Linked DNA regions of Homo sapiens: regions 1 and 2 are each linked to region 3. The links come from fine-mapping of genetic effects on gene expression. A gene starts in region 3. Each other region holds a variant in brackets. All regions are shown on one strand. Distances are from middle to middle.

Region 1 (8,009 bases), 120 kb before region 3:
TAATTATAATGGAATATTATAGTTAAAATGAACAAGAGCAACGTGTCAACATGATTAGTTTCTAAAAGCATTATTTAAAAGAATACAGGTTGTAGACTAGTACAAAATACCATTTAAACATTTTAAAAACAGAATCATAACAATATTTATATAAATGCCCATTCATAATAAAAAGTGTAAATACAAGGATAAGAAGGAGAGTAGTTGTCTCTGAGTTGGGAAGATGATGACTAGGGTAAAAGAAAACTGTGACATTTTAGTGCCCTTTTTAGTGTGATAAGAAAAAAGGCAAAACATTAACATTTGTTACTTCTGGGTGGGTTTGTGGATATTCTGAATGTCAGACACCCAACCATCCAACAGATACCTACCAACAGACACATAATGGTTAAGAAGAGCCTGGTAAGTTGAGCTGTCCCCTTTTAACAAACACATGACCAAAATGTGTGTGTGTGTTACACGAGAAATCCCTCTTGGGCGTCTGGCTTAGAAGAAATCAAAGAGTATACAAAAGCAATCAAGTCAAAAAGATTACAAAAACAGAAATACTCTATTCAAACACTTCGTCTTAAGAGCAGCAGTTACTTTTTTTGCCTTTTTTTTTTTTTTTTTTTTGAGACGGAGTCTCGCTCTGTCGCTAGGCTGGAGTACAGCAGCGTGATCTCGGCTCACTGCAACCTCCGACTCCCTGGTTCAAGCGATTCTTCTGCCTCAGCCTCCCAAGTAGCTGGAATTACAGGCATGTGCCACCAGGCCCAGCTAATTTTTGTATTTTTAGTAGAGACGGGGTTTCACCATGTTGGCCAGGTTGGTCTCGATCTCCTGACCTCATGATCCGCCCACCTCAGCCTTCCAAAGTGTTAGGATTACAGGCATGAGCCACTGTGCCTGGCCAACAGTTGCTTTCTTTTGGGAAAAGGTGAATTCAAAAAATCAAGGTATGACAAGCTTACAAATTCCACTATCCTGCAAAATTTTTTGTATTGAAATTGGTAATTTGTTTCTACATTATTTGTGCAGAGTTCCTACATTTCTAAAAGGAAAATATATGAGCTTAAAATTTGTCAGACTCACTCTGTTTCTCTTACTGTAAAGCCTCAAAATTCAGCTGTAACCTACAACTCTTTGCTTTTCAAAAGTGACTAGAATCAGACCACTTTTACTCTGGTATTCTAACAGGAAATGAAAGCAGGAAAGAGATTAGTATGTAACTGCAACCACTAAGTTGCAAGTTCATAAGGAAATATTTTAATTTACTTGGTATGAAATGGGAATTTGTTATCCTCTTCTGGAACTATCATGAAACTCAAGTCACTTTCAAGAAAAATGTTAGCATTTTGGCTTATCTACCATTTCACCCTGCGCCCAGCATTGTTATATCACTCACCTTAGATGTCAACACTTAGATTCCCAATGCTGCAGGCGATAGCTAATTTTATTTTGCTCATTCCAGAAAGAAACAAACCACTTCTAGATTGTATAAATTCACTTCACTTTTTAAACATTTGTAATTTGTGCAATTACATTAATACTTAAATCTGAAAACACAGACAAAATTAAAATTTAAAGCTCCCCAATTACTCTTACTCTGAGACTACCACAATTAAATTTTTCATGTCATCTTCCAGCTTTATCTCATGCAACTATACACTTGTACATCATATGTGAACCACGTGATAGCAAATTTCTTAAAAGTTAGTCTTAAATGAAACAGTATGTTTAAATATACCATGTCTACGGTTTATTAAAAATTAAGTATGCACACATTTAAAAGTCCACCGACCAAGTGGTATTCTGAACACTGTGGAACATATATTAAGTTTGCCTTATGATAAGCATCTGTCATCAGAGCTACTCCAACAACCTTCCATTTCTTAAACATATCTTCTGACTCACTGCCTTATAAAGTATACAATGATCAACAGGTTATAGCTACTTTCTAGTCACCATACTCCTCTCTTCTCCCAAAACTAGTATTTCCAAGGGTTTGTGGGGGATAGAGATGGTGTCACATTAGTAGAGGAGTTACTTCAGTCAGTTCTTTTAAAATTTCTGCCTTCCCCACTTGTGATCATCCTCTTTGATGCTTCTGCCATCCACACTTCTATTTAGGAGGTCAGCAAAACCATTCTGTGAAAAGCACTGCTTTAATGATAGCTGGCCTTCAGTATGCTAGAACAAGAGGTCATCATGAATTAGGTACTAACTATTCCTAAATATTAAACACTGGTCAACTAAAATGCACAAATTCATGAATTGGATTTGCACTCAAACAAAAAAAAATACCATAGGCAGTATCATTTCTACCTTTGTAAGAGGCAGGAATATTCATTAGACTCTATGCTTGACTTTTCATATGTATTTTAACACTGTAGTAGGCTATCGGGTCTAGTTTAAGCTTCATTTCTAAACTACTCAACAGCTCAGAACTGACAAAGATCACAAGAAATCAACTATTAACCTCTTGCCTGAAGACACAAATGAAATATTCCCTATTTTACAAAGCAAATTAGATTCCAAGATTTTCCAAAGCCATACTCCTGCAGTTCACTGGGTTTCAAACTTAAAATCATAATAGTAATATACACATATTTACATTATAACCCATTACACATTATTTTCAACTCAATGCAAGTCAAACAAAGGTTTCACAAAATAACTTTACTATGTGCAATACACTGATATTTTCTATTCTACTCAGAATTTTTTAAATACTAATCATGACCCATTAAATTGTCTACCCACTAATGAGTGACAATACCCAGTTTGAAAAACTGCATTAAGAGGTAGTATTTCAACCAATAAATGTTAATTTGCCATAACTATGTCATAAAATTTTCTCGCTTTTTATATTCATTTACTTATTTAAGTAAAATCATATATAAAACAATATAAAAATATTTAATGAAAGGACAGTGTGACAGGTAGAATATTATCAAGGGGGTAAGAAAAGCCAAAATTAGGCCATAAGAGATCCTCAGACCAGCTCTGATAATTGGAAAGATTTGTGGCAAAATCAATTGATAACTCATGTCCCAGGGTGCTTACATACCATCCTTTTCAATAGTTTAGAAAGTCTCCA[C/T]AACTTCAAAATGCAAAGCTGTTAAGCAAAACCTTTCTTTAGCAATAATATAAAAATAATCAACACTTTTGACTGGGAAGAATTATATATCAACTAAAAGGTCCTTATGCAAACTCCAGGAATTTCAGGCTTCTCTACCTACACAATAGTCTTAGACTTGAGAGATATAGATCCACATTTCCAAACAAATGTACTGAATTGTAATTTGAGAAAAGAAAATACAGAATATGTGAAAGGGGGACTGACGGGGAAGGTAGAAAAATAACAAATAGGAATTCTTACAGGAATGGAGAGAATATAGTATGGTAAGATTAACTTTTGCTTTTTTTTTTTTTTTTTTTTTTTTTTGAGACAGAGTCTCACTCTGTTGCCCAGGCTGGAATGCAGTGGCACAATCTCAGCTCACTGCAACCTCCACCCACCGGGTTCAAGTGATTCTCCTGCCTCAGCCTCCCGAGTAGCTGGGACTACAGGCATGCACCACTACACTCAGCTAATTTTTTTGTATTTTTAGTAGAGACAGGGTTTCACCATGTTGGTTAGGCTAGTCTCGAACTCCTGACCTCAAATGATCCATCCACCCACCTGGGGCCTCCCAAAGTCCTGGGATTACAGGCGTGAGCCACCGGGTCTGGACTTTTTTTTTTTTTTTTTTTTAAATAGACTAAATGACCTCAGATAAAGAGAATGTAGATGAGCAATTTAAGTCCACTTTACCTCAAATCCTAATACTTGAGTCAATCACTTCCTGGTACTTCCCCAGAATACTTAACTGTAAGTGTCGTAGTTATCCTGGCATAGAAAATATTGGATGATAAAGGTTTCTAGGTCAAGGCCTTTCTCTTAAGACTGAGAAAGAAGTATACTTAAATGTCTTTGTGAAGAAAAGTCCTTTGGAATCGCTTGAACCCGGGAGGCAGAGGCTGCAGTGAGCTGAGATGGCACCACTGCACTCCAGCCAGGGCTACAGAGCCAGATTCCGTCTCAAAAAAAAAAAAGGGCCGGGCGCAGTGGCTTACACCTGTAATCCCAGCACTTTGGGAGGCCAAGGTGGGCGGATCACCTGAGCTCAGGAGTTCAAGGCCACTGTGACCAACATGGAGAAACTCTGTCTCTACTAAAAACACAAAAATTAGCCAGGCGTGGTGGCGCACGCCTGTAATCCCAGCTACTTGGGAGGCTGAGGCGGGACAATCACTTGAACCCGGGAGGCGGAGGTTGCGGTAAGCAGAGATCGCGCCACTGCACTCCAGCCTGGGCAACAAGGGCGAAACTCCGTCTCAAAAAAAAAAAAAAAAAAAAATGAGAGAGAGAGATCCTTTAAACAGTCTTAAATGATTTTAGCCTTTAAAGGTAACAGAGGCCAAACCAGGGTTAATGATAAGATAGTTGTCAAAAAGTTTAAAAAACAAACAAACAAACAAACAAAAAAACCTCTCTCATTTCAAAGAGAGGAATTTTGGTTGAGCTTCGAGTCTTTAGCAAATCCAGCCCAGCCAGGTTGGGCCCTCTTCCACATACATGCAAAGGTCTGATACAAACATTTCTCATTCTAACAATACACAGAAGCATTATAATTTGGTATATAGTTTACCAGCAACTAACATTTCAATGGCTTTTAGCAACTGTCACTCTGCATATACTCATTTCTCCTTTCTTATTCCTTTCCTCTAAATTCAAACATCCCAAGAATATTTTATAAAGGAGAAACAGCTTAAGTAATGATGGCTATTGGGTCAGGTGTGTGCTCACCACTTAGCAGAATATTTCACCAGCAGCAAAACAGTTCTCCAAGTAAACACACACACCCCTAGTTCCTAACCTACAACGTATTCTCTCGGTAAGACTTTAAAGATGTTTTTCCCATTTCATTCAATTTTATGTAAACAAGTTATAACAAACTAATTTTTTCACCACATAGATTTTGAAAAGGAATCTTGAAAAGAAAATGTTTAACCTAGTGGCAAACAATAACTATTTAAAAAGTGATTTTTCCATCTTTTAAAGTACACTGTACATTTTACAATATACTTTAAAAAGAGTCTTTTAAGATCACAGTGGCTTTGGCCAAAATAATCTTTATGTTGTCTTGTAAAACTCATGGCTCTTCTGTAATACTGCATTCACTATACTCTCCTTATGTTCATACTGAGATGACATCCAAAAATGTATTTTTAAAGTTCAATGATCTCTTTTCTTTTGAATTTCTAAAGGTACATAAAATTCTGTTTCAGCAGACAGGATATTAACTAGTCATGCCACGCAAATGCAACTGGAGAAAGCAGTAGTGTGTAGGTAAAAAATATAGAGAGAAGCGAATATTTTCTTTAGATACTTGAAAATGTCCTAATATTTTTATAAAAGCAAAAATGGCAAGGCTGTATAAAATGTAAATAGACACAGATCACGAGACAGATAATTATAAACACAGAAAGTAAAACTGTAACAAGTCCAAAGAAACACAAAGCCCATGGCTGAACTCTAGCTTCATAGTTAAAATTTTTTTAACTTTGTATTCATTTAGGGGCACAAGATAGTTCCTCAGGAGTATTTGATGTGAACCACCTTATTATTCAAAGGTGTCTGGCCTTCTCCCAAAGCCATACTTTACTAAATTACAATGGGGTCTCCATGTGGGGACAAATATATAATCTAATACAGGTTGAGTACCCCTAATTCAAAATGCTTGAGACCAGAAGTGTTGGGATTTGTTTTTCTCAGATTTTGGAACATTTGCACTTTGGAGCATTTCAGATTTGGGATTTGGGGTTCTCAACCTGTATACATTTTGTCTCACTGCTACTTTCGTCTTCACTATAAAGTTAACCTTTCATCAGTGAAGAAGCATTTCTTCATATCTGTAATTGTAGATACATAAGGTAAGCAGCAGAATACAGTCCTTTTATTTATTTATTTTTTTTTTTTTGAGACAGAGTCTCGTTCTGGCTGGAGTGCAGTGGCGTGATCTCGGCTCACTGCAAACTCCGCCTCCTAGGTTCAAGCGATTCTCCCGCCTCAGCCTCCCGAGTAGCTGGGATTACAGGCACGGGCCACCACACCCAGCTAATTTTTGTGTTTTTAGTAGAGACGGGGTTTCGCCATGTTGGCCAGGATGGTCTCGCTCTCCAGACCTCGTGGTCCACCCACCTCGGCCTCCCAAAGTGCTGGGATTATAGGCGTGAGCCACTGCGCCCGGCCTGAATACAGTCCTTTAACATGGCACAAATACTGCTAAAAGCTGAATAAAAACCCACCAATATTTCTTTTCTTTTAAAAACCTAAGTATCTGACAAATTCCAAATTTTGAACCTATAAAAGCTGTCAGCTTCCCCAATTCTTTCCCATCTAACCCCTAGTTTAGGCACAAATGTAACGGTCTAAAGCTTACACCATGATTACTTCCTTGCCCAAATAGCATAATGAATAGATTAAAATTAACAACAACAAAAAAAATCTCTTTAATAAAAATCTAGCCAGCCTCCTCTGAGCCCTCTTCTGGACCAGGCCTCAACCTGGACCTTTAAAAACTACAGACTCTCAAAACAAATGATTTGGTCCACTCCCTCCTTTCACATTAAAAGACTTACACACACTAACATTTCTTTTTTTTGTTTGGTTGGTTTTTTTTTTGTTTTTTTTTTTTTGAGACGGAGTCTCACTCTGTTACCAGGATGGAGTGCAGTGGCGCAATCTCAGCTCACTGCACCTCTGCCTCCCAGGTTCAAGCAATTCTCCTGCCTCAGCCTCCGGAGTAGCTGGGACTACAGGTGCACACCACCACATCCAGCTAATTTTAAATACTAACATTTCTAACAGCTCAAGGTTACCTCCCTAGGATGACCCTAGCCTCTCTCAAATTGTCTGCCTCTTAAAGCTCAAGGCTGCCAAAGAATCTACTGTTTGTTCTAGCCAGCATCTGAAGATAGGCCCTAACTATCCTCTTAGATCATTTACTAAAAAGGGCTTACAACTGTGAATCCTTCCTCTGTCCCTTTGAGCTGTACTCCTACAACTCAGGAGTGTCTTTCTCAAGGACCTGAAAGCCATTCCTTTAAAAATGTAACCATCAGGAAAAATAGGGTATCTATTCCCCAGTCACAGTGTCAGCTAACAGGCACAGCTGGCCTAATCACCATATTTTACCAATCTTTTTAAATTCTTCACTTCTTTGAGTCTACAGATTCCGTTTATCCACCCTGCCAAGTCCCCTGCCATTCTCCCTTTAAAACTCCCAGTCATCTCTGCAAATCAACATTGACTTCATTTCATACTGGACTCTCTTCCCTATTGCAAAAGTGTATTACTGACTAAAACCTGTCCTTAGAACTTTAGCTAGTATGCAGCTTTGTTTACCTTTGACAAAATGAATAAAGAAGGAAAGTTAAACATATCCTAATTAGCAAAGACTTATTTATATAGGATCGCTAGATAGAAAGTTTTTTAAAAAGTAAAAATAAAAAGACCTAAAAGTTTCAACTTCATGAAGGAGTCATAATTCCAGAAGTTAACCAATTACCTCTGGGGCTAGAAAAGGACCTTGGCACATGTCAAGCCCAAGTCCTTCATTTTATAATGATGAATCCAAGGTCCAAAGAGATTACGTGACTTACCCGAGGTGATTTGAATGAGGGATCTGCAGGAGGCTTTTTGTTTTTATAGAGACAAGGTCTCACTATGTTGCCCAGGCTGGTCTCAAACTCCTGGCCTCAAGCAATCCTCCTGTCTCTGCCTCCCAAAGTGCTGGGATTATAGGCGTGAGACACCATGGCAGCCTCTATGATGGATCTGATGATGGGCTAACTCAGCTTGATTCTCTTCCTGACTCCAACATGAAAATATTCTGTTACATTCTCATTGATAGAGCAACATTAACCAATAATCATTCAAGTCAAGATGAGCACGCATTTTTTACAGTTCTACTGTATAC
Region 2 (8,009 bases), 160 kb before region 3:
CAGGTTAACAGGGACTGGATTTCTCTTCCTGCCTGAAACAAAAACAAATAAAAACAGACAAAAATTACAATTTTCATGACTCTGGATATCTAGCAAAAAAAAAAAAAAAGACAGTGACCTCTGAGAGATGGGAAACAAAGGAGACCAGCCCTACAATTGTCTTGGCTTATTGCCTTGAAGAGAATTACTGGGCCATGGAACAGAGAAGGGAACATGAAGTGGAGTACAGCAGTAGCCCTGGCTTGGTAGGCATGTAACCTGTGCAGCTGCAGCTCCGAAGGGTGCAGTGCTTGGTTTAATGATCTGATTAAAATTAGAATTTTAAGAAACTAAATAATTTTTTAACAAAGGCTCACATTTTCATTTTACACTGGGCCCTGCTAATTATATAGCTGGTCCTACTCAGCAGATGTGGTAAGTTGAGGAAATAAGCTAAGAGGCCTGATGAGAACAAAGCAGCTAGAGTTCACAGAACAGAAAAACACACAAGGAAGAGTTATATATCAGGAGAGGATCCTGATTATTCAGCCAAGTACAGGTCAGCACATGCATACGAAAAAACTATCTGATGCCAGGCAAAGAACCATCGTAATGGATTGTTTTGACAGGGCTTGAGACGCACATAGACAGGGCAAGGAATAGTGCCTGTGCCCAATGTCAGACTGGAAAAACTCATAATTCAGGAGCATTGCATAGAGTACTCAAGAAGGTTTTATCTTGGAAGTAGAGAACAATTAACTCTACATTGAGCACCTCTCCAAACCCACTTTTAAACACACACACACCATAAAAGCACAATTCCAAAAGACAAAATTGCTTCCAAGTAACTTAACTGCATCTTCGAACAAAGCTCAAGATTTGTACATTTACAGAAATACATGGCACCCAACAAAGTAAATCTCACAGTATCTGCCACCCAAACACAGATAATCAAATACACAAAGTTGTAAGAAAACTTGACCCACCATGAAAAGAATAATCACAACCAACTCAGAACTGACAGAGGTGTTGAAATTAGCAGAGATGGATATTAAAACACCACCACAGCAGAATTTGCAGGCTGCCACTGAAGCAGTAACGAGGTGAAAAATTTTAGCATTAAATCTTTATTAGAAAAGATTTCAAATCAATAAACTCAGTTCCCACCTTAAGAAAGAAAATAAGAACAAATTAAACTCAAAGTAGAAGGAAGGAAATAAAGATTAAAGTGAGAATTCATGAAACAGAAAAAAGCCATGAAACCCAAAAGAGGGGTCTTTGAGATTATCAATAAGTTGATAAATGTCTAGCCAGACTGACTAGAGAAAAAAAAAAAAGACACAAATTATCAGTATCAGAAATGAGAGGTGTCTTCACTACAGTTTTATGCATATTAAAAGCATAAAATGCTGGCCAGCCTGGCCAACATGGTAAAACCCCATCTCTACTAAAAATACAAAAATTAGCCCAGTGTGGTGGCCGGCGCCTGTAATCCCTGCTACTCAGGAGGCTGAGGCATGAGAATCACTTGAACCCAGGAGGCAGAGGTTGCAGTGAGCTGAGACGGATGAAATGTTATAAACAACTTTATGCCATAAATACAAGTTAGAGGAAATGGACAAACGCACTAAAAGACAAGCTCACTCAAGAAGAAATAGATATTCTGAATAACCGTGTATCATTATCAAAGAAATTGCATTTGCAGTTAAAACTCTCTGACAAAGAAAACTCCCTGTGTAGATGGCTTCATTCATGAATCTCATCAAACATTTAAAGAAGAAACAACAGCAACTCTAAACAAACCCCTAACAGAAAATTAAAGAGGAAGGGAATACTTTCCAACTCATTCTATGAGTTCAGAAGTACTCTAATAACAAAACCAGACAAAGACATTACAAGATAAAACTACAGACCAACATCCATGATGAAATGTAGATGCAAAAATTCTAAGCAAAATTTTATCCAAAAATAGAATGTATCACAACCAAACGGAATTTATCCCAAAATTGTATGACTGCTTTAACATTTGAAACCCAACCAGTGTAATTAATTCACTATATTAATGAATTAAAGGAGAAAAACAACATGATCTCAACAGACATAGAAAAAACATTTTACAGCCAGGCACAGTCTCAGTTCGAGACTGGCCTGACCAACATGGTGAAACCCTGTGTCTCCACTAAAAATACGAAAATTAGCCAGCCATAGAGGTGGGCACCTGTAATCCCAGCTACTGAGGAGGCTGAGGCAGGAGAATCACTTGAACTCAGGAGGCGGAAGTTGCAGTGAGCTTGAGATCAAGCCACTGCACTCTAGCCTGGGAGACAGAGTGAGAAGGAAGAAAGGAAGAAAGGAAGAAAGGAAGAACGGAAGAAAGGAAGAAAGGAAGAGGAGAGGAGAGGAGAGAAAGGAAGGAAGAAGGAAAGGAAGGAAGGAAGGAAGGAAGGAAGGAAGGAAGGAAGGAAAAGCATTTTACAAAATTCAACATTCATTCTTCATTTGAAAAAAAAAAAAAACAAAAAACTCAGCAAACCAGAAATAAAAGGGGGCTTCCTTAACCTAATCAAGAGCATCTGTGAAAAACCTATAGCTAATCTCATACTTACTGGTGAAAGACTGAAAGCTTGCCCTCTTAGATCAGCAACAGAAAGGGACGTTTGCTCCCACCACCTCTATTCAACATTGTAGGCTGGGTGCAGTGGCTCATGTCCGTAAGCAATCCCAGCACTTTGGGAGGCTGAGGCATGCGGATCACTTGAGGTCAGGAGTTCAAGACCAGCCTGGTCAACATGGTGAAACCCCCGTCTCTACTAAAAATACAAAAATTACCCAGGCGTAGTGGTGGGCACCTGTAATCCTAGCTACTCGGGAGGCTAACGCACGAGAATCACTTGAACCCGGGAGGCAGAGGTTGCAGTCAGCTGAGATCGTGCTACTGCACTCCAGCCTGGGCGACAGAGCGAGACTCAGTCTCAAAAATAAATAAATACATAAATAAATAGTACTGAAGAGTCTAACCAGTACAATCATGTGAGAAAAGAAATACAGTTATACGACGTAACACAACATTTCAGTCGATGACAGACCACATATACAATGAGGGTCCCATAAGATTATATTTCTACTATACCTTTTCTACTTATGTTTAGATACTAAAATATTTACCATTGTGTTACAATTGCCTACAGTATTTGGTGCAGTATACTCTATGATGTTAGCACAATGATGACATTGCCTAACAATGCATTTCTCTGAATGCATCCTCACAATTAAGAGACACATGACCATAAAAGGTATCTAAAGTGGAGAGAAAGAAGTAAAACTGTCTTCATTCACAAACATCATGATTGTCTGGTGATATGGTTTGGCTCTGTGTCCCCACCCAAATATCATCTAAAATTGTAATCCCCACGTGTCCCCACCAGGAAGGGACCTGGTGGAAGGTGACTGGATCATGGGGGTGGTTTCCCCCATGCTGTTCTCATGATAGTGAGGGAGCTCTCACAAGAGCTCATGGTGTTAAAGTGTGGCCCTTCCTCTTTCTCACCTGCCACCATGTAAGACATGCCTCACTTCTCCTTTGCCTTCCACCATTATTGTAAGTTTCCTGAGGCCTCCCTGTTCATGCAGAACTGTGAGTCAATTAAACCTCTTTTGTTTATAAATTACCCAGTCTCGGGTAGTATCTTTTTTTTTTTTTTTTTTTTTTGGAGACAGTGTCTCACTCTGTTACACAGGCTGGAGTGCAGTGGCGCAATCTCGGCTCACTGCAACCTCTACTTCCGGGGCTCAAGTGATTCTTCCACCTCAGCCTCCCAAGTAGCTGGGACTATAGGTGTGTGCCACCATTCCCAGATAA[T/C]TTTTGTCTTTTTTTGGTAGAGACAGGGTTTCACCATGTTGGTCAGTCTGGTCTCAAACTCCTGACCTCAACTGACCCACCTACCTTGGCCTCCCAAAGTGCTGGGAATACAGGCATGAGCCACCACGCCTGGCCTCTGGTAGTATCTTTACAGCAGTGTGAAAATGGACTAATACATCTTTATAGAAAACCCAATGAATAAATAATAAAGTTACTATAACTAATAAGTTTACCAAGTTTACAGATACAAAATCAATATATGAACCATCACATACTATTTTCAAAGGTTAAATACCCTTTAAAGTAGCATCAACAATATTAACTTCTTAGAGATAAATCTGACAAAACATGTGAAAGACCTATACAACAAAAAATATGAAATTTTGCTGAGAGAAATTAAAGAAGGCCTAAAGAGAGATCACTTCTATCATAGATTGAAAGACTCAACATTGTTAAGATGTAAATTTTCCCGTTAATCTACACATTCACAGCAATCCCAACCACAAATCCAGCAGGATTTTTGGGAGAAACTGACAAACTGATGCTAAAACTCATATTGAAATAAAAAGGGCCTAGAATAGCCAAAACAACTCTGAAAATAAAGTTGAAGGATTAACACTACCTGATTTCAAGAATTATTATAAAGTTTATGTAATCAAAAGAGGTATTGGCATAAAGCAGACAAACAGATCAATGCAACAGAATATAAACTCCAGAAAAAAAACCCCCACATATATGGACAACTGACTTTTGACAAAGTCCCAAAGGCACTGCAGTGTGAAGAAAGATAGCCTTTTCAACTACTGGTGCTTGAAAATAATAAACTCAGATGTATACCTCCATATCATATATAAAAATTTACATAAATCATCAGTATAAATATAAACCCTGAAACTATGAAACTTCCTGAAGAAAATGCAGAAAAAATATTTAAAAGCATAAAGAACAAATGGATAAACTGAACTTCATTGAAATGAAAAACTTCTCTTCAAAACTCACTGTTATAAAAAAGACAAGTCAAAGAGCAAGAAAAAATCTTTGCAAACATAAATATGAAAAAGATTTGTATCCAGAATAAAGGATATTAATAGTATCAGTAACAAAAGAAAAAAACCCAATTTAAAAATAGGCAAAAAAATTTCAACGGTTGAACAAAGAAGATACATGGATGGCAATAAGCTCATGAAAAGATGCTCAATGTCATTAGAGAAATGCAAATTGTAACCATAATGAGGAATCAGTACACACCTATTAGAAGGTCTAAAATTAAAAAGACTAACCATACTAAGTGTTGGTGAGGATATGGAGGAACTGAAACTTCCATACACTGCTGGTAGGAATGTTGAACAATATAACCACTTTGGAAAAGTTTGGCAGTTTCTTAAAAAGTTAAAACATACAACCTATGATATGATCAGCCATTTCATTTGCAGGCATTTACCCAGAAGCAAAGGAATATACATCCATATAAAGACATTTATGTGATAGCCAGACATAGTGGCACACATCTATATTCCTACCTACTTGGGAGGCTGAGGTAGGAGGACTACATGAGTTCAGGAGCTCAAAGCCACCAAATGTCCATCAACTAATAAATGGATTAGGCAGTCTGTAGTACTACCCACATAATGGAATACTACTTAGCAAAAGAAAAGAATGAACTATTGATATAGACAACAACATAGATGAATCTCAAAATATGCTGAGTGAAAGTAGCCAGACCAAACAAGAGTATATATAGTTGGTCATGGTGGCTCACACCTATAATTCCAGCACTTTGGGAGACCAAGGTGGGACAATCGCTTGAGCCCATGAGTTTGAGACCAGCCTGGGCAGCACAGCAAGACCCTATCTCTACAAAAATTATCCAGGTGTTGGAGCGCACGCCTGTAGCTCCAGGTACTCAGGAGGCTGAGGTGGGAGGATTGCCTGAATCTAGAAAGTTGAGGCTGCAGTGAGGTGTGATCACGCTACTGCCCTCCAGCCTGAACAACACAGCTAGACCCTGTCTCCAAAAAAAAAAAAAAAAAAAGAGAGAGAGAGAGAGAGAGTATATAATGCATGATTTCAGGCCAGGCACGGTAGCTCACGCCTGTAATCCCAGCAGTCTGGGGAGGCCGAGGAGGGCAGATCACTTGAGGTCAGAAGTTCGAGACCAGCTGGGCCAACATGGTCAAACTCCGTCTCTACTAAAAAATACAAAAATTAGCCAGGTGTCATGGCAGGCGCCTGCAATCCCAGCTACTCGGCAGCCTGAGACATGAGAATCGCTTGAACCTAGGGGAGAGGCAGAGGTTGCAATGAGCCCAGATTTCTTTTTCAGAGAAAATAATGAAGGTAAAGGTGGCAGGTATGGGAATTAGCCAAAAGAATAATTATTTGTTGTAGAAAGGCAAAAGCTGCTATTTCTACTTCCAAGTCTGGCAATTTTGAGTACAGGAAAACTTTATTATTTTCCTGCAGATAGGCAATAAACTCTCGGTCACTAAAGCTGTCTCTCTGAGATAGAGAACTAATCAAACCTACAACACAATATACTGGCCACTGTATTGCTCGTCAAAGGTGATAGTAAATGCTTTCTAAGTAGATGAGAAAGAACATTTCAGAATTTTCCCAGATTTGAAAGAAAAGACAGTCCTTAAATTATTTCATGAAAAAATCAAGAAAAGTCACAACAATTTCTGACTCCAGGCCATACACAGGCCTTCTTCAGCTTCAGGAAAATCACAAAGGATCACTTTCTCTCAGAAACACTAGCTTAGCTTAAGTACTCAGTGTAATGCTTCAGAGCTGTGCTATCTAATACAGAAAGCAATAGACACATGTGGCTATTTAAATTAACTACAATTAAATAAAATGGAAAATGCAGTTCCTAAGTCACACTAGCCACACCTGAAGTGTTCAATAACCACATGTAGCTACCATGTTGGATAGCACAGATAGAGAACATTTCTATCATTACAAAAAGTTGCATCAGACAGTGCTACTCCACAGTAACCAAGTTTAGAGAAAGACAGTAGCTTTTTAACAACTCTTTAGTTCTTCAGAAACTTTCATAAGTGGTGTTGTAACAGTTTTATGAATCCATGCTTTTTAAAGTTTAGGTACTGAGGCCACCCACCAATGAAATGAAATTTGCTTCAAATACTATCAACCTAGAATGGAGCATAGAATTTTTTTAATCCCATAAAATTTCCTTTACCTTGGGTGTATTTAACTACTTGCAAAGCACCATCAATCATCTATGGGACTCAAAGTTGTTCTGCCCCCTTTGCAACATTTGAAAACTGACAAAGAAAATCATGACAGTTTTACCAAATCAGCAACTCAGAAACTAAGAAAAAGCAGTGAAACAATCAAAAGCCATGAATATACTAACAGTATATTCATGATGACTTTGACAAATGAACTCGAGGGAGGGAAATGCCAACAAAAACTCAGTAAGTGCAAAGTTTTTTTCAAAATAAACTACCACTTTATTAATGGATATAAATGTTGGCAAATTGCATGAATAATTCAGGTCTACTTTCAGTTAAGTGGAATCTTCACTAAAGCCATATATTATTGACTTCACAGCACTTGTTTCTAGTTGACTGCTTAATAAATAAATAAATCTACTCTAATCCCAGTTTACAGCCAATAGTGAAGACAAATATTATCTATCACTCACCCACCCATTTTAAGTACCTTCAGCCAAAATAAAATCTTACCCCAATGGTGTAAAAAAAAAAAAAAAATTAATAGGCCTGAAAACCTTACAAAGGGAAGAGAGGGCATAAAGTATAGCACCTGGTCCAACTATCAATCTGCTAATAATCTCATTCAAATAAAATAATAGCTGTTGTGTGAGACTCCAAGAGACAATCTTGAGTGTTTCAAATCATACCTGGTAAGTCCTAACTCTTTACAGATCCTCAAAATGAACAGTCTCACAATTCCATATACCTACAAGAGTCCAAAAACTACTGAGGAGCCATATCTGTTATTCTAACACCACACTTAGTGTGAATATTATATCTGGAGGTGTATTTTCATTAACAGAAGATTTATCCATTATTTCTGAAGCCTCACAGAGGCAAGTATAAACTTTGAGTGGCTGACAAAATAGAAAGACTGGGTTGGTGAATTAATGCTCTTAGAGTGGGGCTTATGTGCTAAACCCAGCTTTATG
Region 3 (8,009 bases):
GCAACGTTCCACGGAAACACGTATATCACATTCATACAGACACACAGAGTCATACCCACACACCCAAGCCATTCTCAAGAACCACCAATAGTCTTTCACATTAAAGATATACATCACTCCCTGATCAAAGTTCTTGAGTAGCTCCTCACTGCACTCAGGATAAAAGTCCAAAGTCCTCAGCATTACAATGCTATGAGGGCCCTGGATCACCAATTCCTCTCAATTCCCCAGCCTTATCTCTAGATTGTGATCACCCTTCACAATCTACCAACAGACCCCCTTATCTCTAGATTGTGATCCCCCTTCACAATCTATCAACAGACCCAACAAACCTGTTCCTCAAATGAGTAGTGCTCTCACTCACATCCCGGCCTTCACCCATGTTAGTCCCACTGCCTGAAAGGAATATTTGTTTCCATACTCTACTTCTACCCTTCCTGTGGGTCTAGGCTAAAGTGTCACTTTCTCCAGGCTACTTTCCTCTACCTCCACCCCAGCTAGGGTAGGTGCCCCTCCCCTAGAGCACCTGTACAACGTATTGCAACTGTCAGTTTACTTCCCTGTGCCCCCTGCCCCAGAGTATGGGGCCAGCACCTCCTTGCCCACCATTATATCACAGGCATTCAAATATCTGTTAAATATATTCTAAGTTTACTCAGTGAACAAAATATGAATGTGGCCCATACAGTAAGGGAAACATGTCCAAAGTCAGTTGTGATACGATGGAAACAAGGCGGCAATGTTGCTATGCTTTGGTATAAAATACAAACTACACAATTGTCTACAAACGTCCTTAGGAAAGGTTAAAACATTGCACCAAAAAGAACACTTTTCACGATAAAAATACTAGTTTTGTGGTCACTACTCCTGCTAGGTAAACTGAAGTTCATAAAAAGTATCAGACTGAAAATATCTAAAAAGAAGCCCTGGTTGCTTATAGGTCAAGTACAACATTAGTGTAACTTTTCCTGTCTGCTGCCACCAAACTCTATTGGCATTATCAGAACCCTACCGGCTAAAGGTAAAAGGCTGGCCGGGCGCGGTGGCTCATGCCTGTAATCCCAGCACTTTGGGAGTCCAAGGCAGGCAGATCACCTGAGGTCAGAAGTTTGAGACCACCTTAGCCAACATGGCAAAATCCCGTCTCTCCTAAAAAACACAAAAATTAGCCGGACATAGTGGTGTGCACCTGCAGTCTCAGCTACTTGGGAGGTTGAGGCAGGAGAACTGCTTGAACCCGGGAGGTGCAGGCTGCAGTAAGTCGAGATCACGCCACTGCACTCCAGCCTGGGCAACAGAGCAGGGCTCCGACTCAAAAATAAATAAATAAATAAAGGTAAAAGGCTATTCCATTTCCTTAGTTTCTAAGCCTTGATATAAGTCTTTCGATAAAGATTCCATTCATGGTAACAGTCCGAAGGACATAAACGTGTTGCCAGGAAAGAGACCTGATACATCCTGAGCATTAGCTGCCACTGGCAGCGACTTTCTTTAGGACATATGTCTTACAATGAGTTACAATCTGAGGCTTGTGACACAAGATTTTTCCAGGGCAGCAGACTGATACCATAAACATGATGGTACTACGCACTCTAAAGAGCTCACCAGCTCCACCCTACACTCCCTGTGTGAAGCGGCAAATTATCCACCCAAAGCCTCAGTTTCCCCAGCTAATAATGAGATAATGGTTCCTACCTCGCAAGATTCTTGTGGGAATTAGACAGTCCATGAAAGCACTTCACAGGCAAACCAATTATTTTCAAATCAAAATGAAGGGAAGACTAGAAATATTTTCACATTTTTAGGACTTTTTATATGCCACAACTTATTTTTGACTAATGTCCTTCCACAGGGAAATTTTTGAGAAAGGCAGAAAAATGAGAAAATGAAAATCCACTTCTTTGTCATAACCTTGAGATACGACAACTTCCACAGAAGTCTACATTAAGATCCACTTTCTAATCTTTCTCTGCACTCCCAAAATTACTCTTAATTTCTGTTAACCATTCCTACAATATGGGAGATAGCAAAGGGAAAACTACTTCCATACTTCTTCCCAAGATGTCCTCACCAGAAACAATCTTCCTTCCTGCCTCTATGTCTCCAAATATACGGAATCTCTCAAAAAATAAAACTAAAACAAAACGATAAAAGAGAAAAGGGACTCAAATCACAAAAGCCAGCCTTCAAAGTCTCCAGCTTTCTTACTGCAGAACTACAGTCATGTGGTATGATGGAGGCACCTGTTAGGTGGCAATCCATGAAGCTTAAAGTGTTACCAGGAGAATTTAAACAGTAATGGGGGGAGGAAGAGGAGCTGATTTCCCACCTCACATTTTTTTCGCCTTAACACATGATGGCCAAACAATATATGCTACCCACTGTCAACATTTTTATCATTTTTACTTAAATTGAGAAAGAGGAGAATTTGAGAGCCAACTGAGGAAACTGGATCTCATATTCCCCAATCCAGGCTGACTTCAGGTTTTGTGTGGTTTTTTTCTTCCTTTTTGACAAGGAAATTTTACATATCTCCTGAAACGTGTTTTACATGAAGGTGAGACCTCAACAATCTTATAACTTTACCCCAGCCTGGTTCTGGACTCGGTTTTTACAAACGGGTGACGTGTGAATAGCTTCCTAAAAGCAAATGGGGCACTGGGATATAATCTAGGAAGTGATGATGCAAGTCTCCGGAGGACGGGGAGGAGGGGAGGTGAAGAAGTCAGAGGAAATACCCTCCTAGTGCCTGGGCACCAACTCACGCCCCGGGAGGGAGGAAGGGCTGGCTTCCACATGCCCACGGAAGGGGCACCCCTGCTCCTCCCGGAGCGGTCAACGCCGCCCCCTCATCCCTCCCCGCCGCCCTGCCCCCCTCACCCGTGGCCCAGGAGGCCCCCGTGGGCCCGAGCTTCAGGCCGGCGAGTCCCAAAGGGTAGCAACGCACCCCCGGCAGGGCCTTCTCTGCCCACCCCCAGCTCCCCACCCGGCACCCCTCCCCGGAACGCGACCCCCACCCCCTCCCCGTAGGCCCGGGCTGGGCCCAGCCTCCAAGGTTCCGGCCTCCCGGGCCCCGAGGCCTGCCCAGGCTGCCCTGGCGTCTGCGCCCCCGGCCCCCGCCCCCCGCCCCCACCCGGCCGGGCACTTACCCCCAGAAGCCGCAGGGACAGCGAGGCGGCAGGCTGGGCGCTTTGCTGCGCTCGCTCCCAGCGTCTCCCATGGTGCTCGGCGGCGGCGGAGCTCGGCGGCGGCAGCGGTGGCGGCGGCTGGGCCCGGGCCCCGCTCTGAGGAGGCGGTGGCGGCGGCGTCGGGGGGCTCGGGGCGGGGGGAGGGGGAAGGAGCGGGCGCGCGGGCGGGCGCGAGTCCGGGGCTCGGAGCCGGGATTCCAGGCCGGTCAGCTGGAGGCGGGCCGCACCACTCGGCCTGCGGAGACGGGGAGGGGGCGGAGAGGCGCGGAGAGAAGAAGGAGGGAGCCGAGGAGGAGGGGCGTGCGGACGCACCGAGGACCGCGGGGGAGGAGGGACACAGACGCCCTCGGCGGGTCTCACCGCCGCTCCCCAGCCAGAGAGATGTCCTGTGCGGTGGCGCAGGGAAGGACCGGAGCCCCCCGCCGGCTCCGGAGTCGCAGCGGCCGCTCTGAAGCCCCGGGCCCTGCTGTCTCCGTAACACCGTCCCCTCCCCCGGAGGCTGCGCTGACCGGACAATGGCCGCTCCGCCCCCTCCCCGGCGTGCGCCCCTCCCGAGGAGTCACAATGGTCTCGCCCGGGGGAGCCAACGCCAAAGCCCAGCCGCTGATCAGCTGGGATCCGGGCGTGCCACTTCGTTCCGCGCCTCAAAGGCGGAGTGCGGGGCTGTGGGAGAAAACGAGAGCCTCGGGCTGTCGCCCGGCGACGGGCGGCTGAGGCCTTCGTATTCTTAGAACTTTTAGAATCTGAAGCAAACTTATCTTCCCCCTGTCTGAAGAAGGGGAGCAGGTTTCTGAGTACTCCGGGGCGCGGTGCCTCCCCCTAAACGCGAATGGTGCGCTCCAAGCGGGAGGGGGAGGAGCAGATTAGTTGTGTAGGGTAAATTGGGCCAGTCCCAGAGTGGCGGCGCATGCGCCCGTAGAACCCGTAACCGAGTGCGAGGAGGGGCCTGGGGGAGCAATGCCAAACGCGGAAGTGGAGCTCTGGCTTCCCGGGGGCGTCGGAGTCAAGGTCCCTGGAGCTGCCGCTCTGGCTCCTGGGCGATTCCGGGGAGCCATTCTCCCCAATTTGCCAACTCCCTGGGCATCTCTCTCTCTCTTCCTGGTCCCGCCACACCCAAACAACTCTTATAGTTCCACCCGGTATACTGGTCTCTTGACAGGAACTTTTGGGAAATGCCCCTCCCCCAGCCCCTTGTCTGGGGCAACTTCCTTGTCTCTTCTCCCCCACCGGTGTTGGGGAGTTCCTTGTCTCCACTCCCAACCACAGAGCCACAAGTACATTATCTATGCCCAGGCGAGTCCCTATGCCCAGGCTAGGAGAGCCGCACTTCTTCCTACAGCTGACACGTTTGGTTTTTGGAGGGGAAAGGGGAGCTGTAGCTGAATCAGTAATGGAAATTGGTAAGTGACCAAAGAAGTTTGAGACACTAAAAAAATGAGTCCTTTAACGATCCTAGTCCTTGATCCTGAGCTCATTCTGATCTCCAGTTAGTCATGAACAGAGAAATCGATTATTGATGACTAATTCAACACGGAGGCAACATCCTCCAGACCTTTTGGAGACCCATCGCTGAGGAAGACTTCCTGGCTCTTAGGAATAGCTGCCGTATACCCTCCTTGCCTGTCGGGTATATCAGAGCCTCAGAGAGACTATTACCTAGATTAATTTGATTACCAAATGTTGCTATCTTATTTCTTTATATACCAAATCACATTTCTGTTTGTGCATACTGTGTGGGTTTGTTAACATTGATGTTTATTTTGGCCTCTAAAGAGCAAGGATCGCATTTAGCTTAATATGCCACAGATGCTGTTGATGGTGAAGTTAATGATTGCAAAAATCAAGCACTTAAAGCCAAAACACCCTAAAATGTGAGTGCTGATTTATTATGCACAATGTTTAGTTTTAATTTGGTGGATTTTCCAAAGCCTTCAATAAGTATATCTGTAAGAAAGTGCATAGAAAAAGCCGGACGCTGTGGCTCACGTCTGTAATCCCAGCACTTTGGGAGGCCAAGACGGGTGGATCACCTGAGGTCAGGAGTTCGAGACCAGCTTGGCTAACATGGTGAAACCCCGTCGCTAGTTAAAAAAAAAATACAAAAACTTAGCCGGGCATGGTGGCACGCGTGTAATCCCAGCTACTTGGGAGGCTGAGGCAGGAGAATCGCTTGAACCCGGAGGGCGGGTGTTGCAGTGAGCCGAGATCATGCCATTGCACTCCAGCCTGGGCAACAAGAGCGAGAGCGAAACTCTGTCTCAAAAAAAGAAAGAAAGAAAGAAAAAATGCATAGAAAGGATAAAGCCATACAGCACACCTTGCTCTCATTGGATTCATATTACCCTTAAATCTTCATTTAAGCCGACATAAAATTCCCACATGCGTGAGATACTTAACAGCCTTTGAGTTTAACAAAGATTAAGTGGGATTATCTCTCTTGGCATCTTGATGATTTTCTTTTATGTACAGAAAAGGAAACTCGACAACTAAAAGGAGAATTCAACATAAAAAGTGATTGTCATTTTCCAAACTGCTTTCCTGTTTGCCAGTTATTCAACAAACATTTATTCAGTACCCAGTATACACAAGGACTTTGCTAAGCACTCTGGAGACTAAAAGGATTAATAAAATGTAGCATTCACCAGCAGGTCCCTACATATAATGTAGATAATTTGGTTCCAGTCTTCCTCTCAGACTTCATTTTCTACTCTTCTCTATTCACTCTGCGAAGCAGACACTAGTTGCCATTCCTCAAATACCTTGCTTTCCCACATCTCCATTCCTTTGTCCTCCTGTTCCTGACTGCTTCAGCTGCCTTTTCTCTTTATATGTATACACACAACACAAGGAGATAATCTTATACAACCCAAGGACACAGAGAGCAGTAAGATCGCATGAAGGACTGAAATAGGTACCTAATACATCAACAGGAAGCCAAGTGTTTGGTTTTTTTCGATATCTTTTTCTCTCTGGTTACAGGTTCTTCCATCTCTGCTTCTCTCTACAAAGCTGCTTTATAATCTCGGCAGAGCTGTTTTCACTGCTTTTTTGGGAACGTAATCCAGGTTTACCCAGCCTCACTTCAAGAACAAACAGAGACTAATTAGTATCTATGAATCCCAATCCCCAGGAGAAAGAAACTGATTGGTTCGATTTATGTCCGCTTGTGTACTCTTGGTACAATCACCTTTGACCAACAGGGCAGTTATGTAGTCAGGTCTTTTTGTTTTGTAAAGCAGACATGGCTGCCAGAACCCCATCTTTGTAGGCTATGTTCTCAAAGTTATGTACTTGGCAAAGATTCCAAAAAATGTCCACCACAGACCATAAAGGAGTAAATTGCAGCTGAACTTCAAAAGCATAAAGAACAATTGACATGTTAAGGATTTTCAACAGACTGACTCCTACTTAAACAAATTCAGACCTGAATTTAAATGGAACTCCTTCAAAGAAGTCATCCCTGACCCAAGCCCCAATCAAAATTTGGTGGCCCCATTATTATCTTACATGGCACTCTTTTTCTTTATAGTACCTATCATAGTTTAAATATGTATTTGTGAGTCTCCTCTCCAAAAATCATGTCTGTTTTGTTTACTGTGATATACACAATACTCAAGGTGCATTTGGGAGGCGTTCAATAAATGTTGTATGAATAAAAGCACAATAATTTGTTAGTCAATGTGAGACCCACAAATGGATTGGAGTCATAGTTAGACAATCCTGGGGGAATGTCTTAGTTACCAACCCACCCTCCCTAGAAGACATTGAAGCTCTCTGCTTTTTTTTTTTTCTGACCTCATTCATCACAAGGCTGCCAGCTTTTTTGTCACACTGAAGTTGTATGAGATGAGACAGTATTTAGCTGCTGCTTATGACGTTCCTAGCCAGATAACTCTTTACTCTTAGTTCCCAGTGTCTCTATCTATAGAGCCCTTGATCCAATTCCTATAACAAGCCCACTTAGTTGACTGAAAGCTCAGAGAGGACATAAAATTTCAGGGCATCATCAAATTAGGGGAGCAAAGTGTGGGGGTAATTGGCAGAGTGCTTTTGTCGTAATTGTCTTGACTATTTTCTGTCGTGTATTATGTTCCAGATGAACCTGTGATGTGACTCCTGGGAGTAGTTTGCAATCACCATTGGCCCAAAAGGAGCCATCTACGTGCTCAGTGGGGTCTAGTAAAGGATAATATTAATTCTTCAGCAGCCAGAGCTTTTGAAGTAGGAACTGAGGGTGTATAGAAAAGAGCCTGGTATGATTCAAGGTCAGGAGCAAACAATGGCTGCCTTCTTGGTAAGAATTCAAAAGACCTACTTAGCCCTGGAAGACTTTACCAAAAAGAAGGGACTTGTAGAGACCTGAGAGAAAGCAGATGATCCTCCACTCTAATTCTAATCCCTACCCTTGAAACTCACTCTCAGTTCAAAACTTGTCATCATTATAATCCATCCTAACCTAGTATTAGCCCCAATGTCCAATCCAAACTCTAGATTTAATTCTAATCCTAATATTATCTGTAAAATTTAATCTCAGTTCCCAACTCTAGTTTTATGAGCTTAACAAAGGCTCTTTGCCTTGCCACTGAGTTATTTTCCCTAGCTCCTTTTTCTTGGGTCCCTTGACCCTGACTGACGAATGAGAGCAGAGAACCCTATAACATCCTGGACCTCTGGAGAGAATGAGAGCCAATTTCAATAATCCAGGTTGGATCCAAGGCCTTGGGCTGCCAGGAAAGAGAAAGTGGGGCATCTGTGACCAGAGCAGGAGGCAGAGACCCTGCCCAGTCACATTTCTTGTTGCCTAATTCAGGGACTACTAAG

Evidence for each region. PIP is the estimated chance that this variant, and not a neighbour inherited with it, causes the effect.
Region 1: its variant is the best candidate, but not a certain one, in a credible set for the expression of ZFAND3 in whole blood (INTERVAL, PIP 0.77).
Region 2: its variant is the best candidate, but not a certain one, in a credible set for the expression of ZFAND3 in whole blood (TOPMed, PIP 0.69).

Annotation. Positions count from the first base shown.
Region 1 is chr6:37,930,260-37,938,268 of GRCh38, reverse strand. The region is part of intron 2 of ZFAND3 (zinc finger AN1-type containing 3); the gene reads right to left. Among named protein-coding and RNA genes, the nearest start is that of ZFAND3, 110 kb to the right of the region's middle. The variant C/T (reference allele first, on the strand shown) is at 3,083.
Region 2 is chr6:37,972,264-37,980,272 of GRCh38, reverse strand. The region is part of intron 2 of ZFAND3 (zinc finger AN1-type containing 3); the gene reads right to left. Among named protein-coding and RNA genes, the nearest start is that of ZFAND3, 160 kb to the right of the region's middle. The variant T/C (reference allele first, on the strand shown) is at 3,839.
Region 3 is chr6:37,815,157-37,823,165 of GRCh38, reverse strand. It overlaps ZFAND3 (zinc finger AN1-type containing 3), which reads right to left and starts at 3,439. Exons shown (of 6, transcript NM_021943.3): 1 at 3,150-3,439. The coding sequence starts at 3,220. It overlaps ZFAND3-DT (ZFAND3 divergent transcript), which reads left to right and starts at 3,779. Exons shown (of 2, transcript XR_007059569.1): 1 at 3,779-4,588; 2 at 4,676-6,852. RefSeq lists silencers at 2,813-2,982, 3,143-3,372, 3,413-3,792 and enhancers at 3,071-3,873, 3,843-4,232.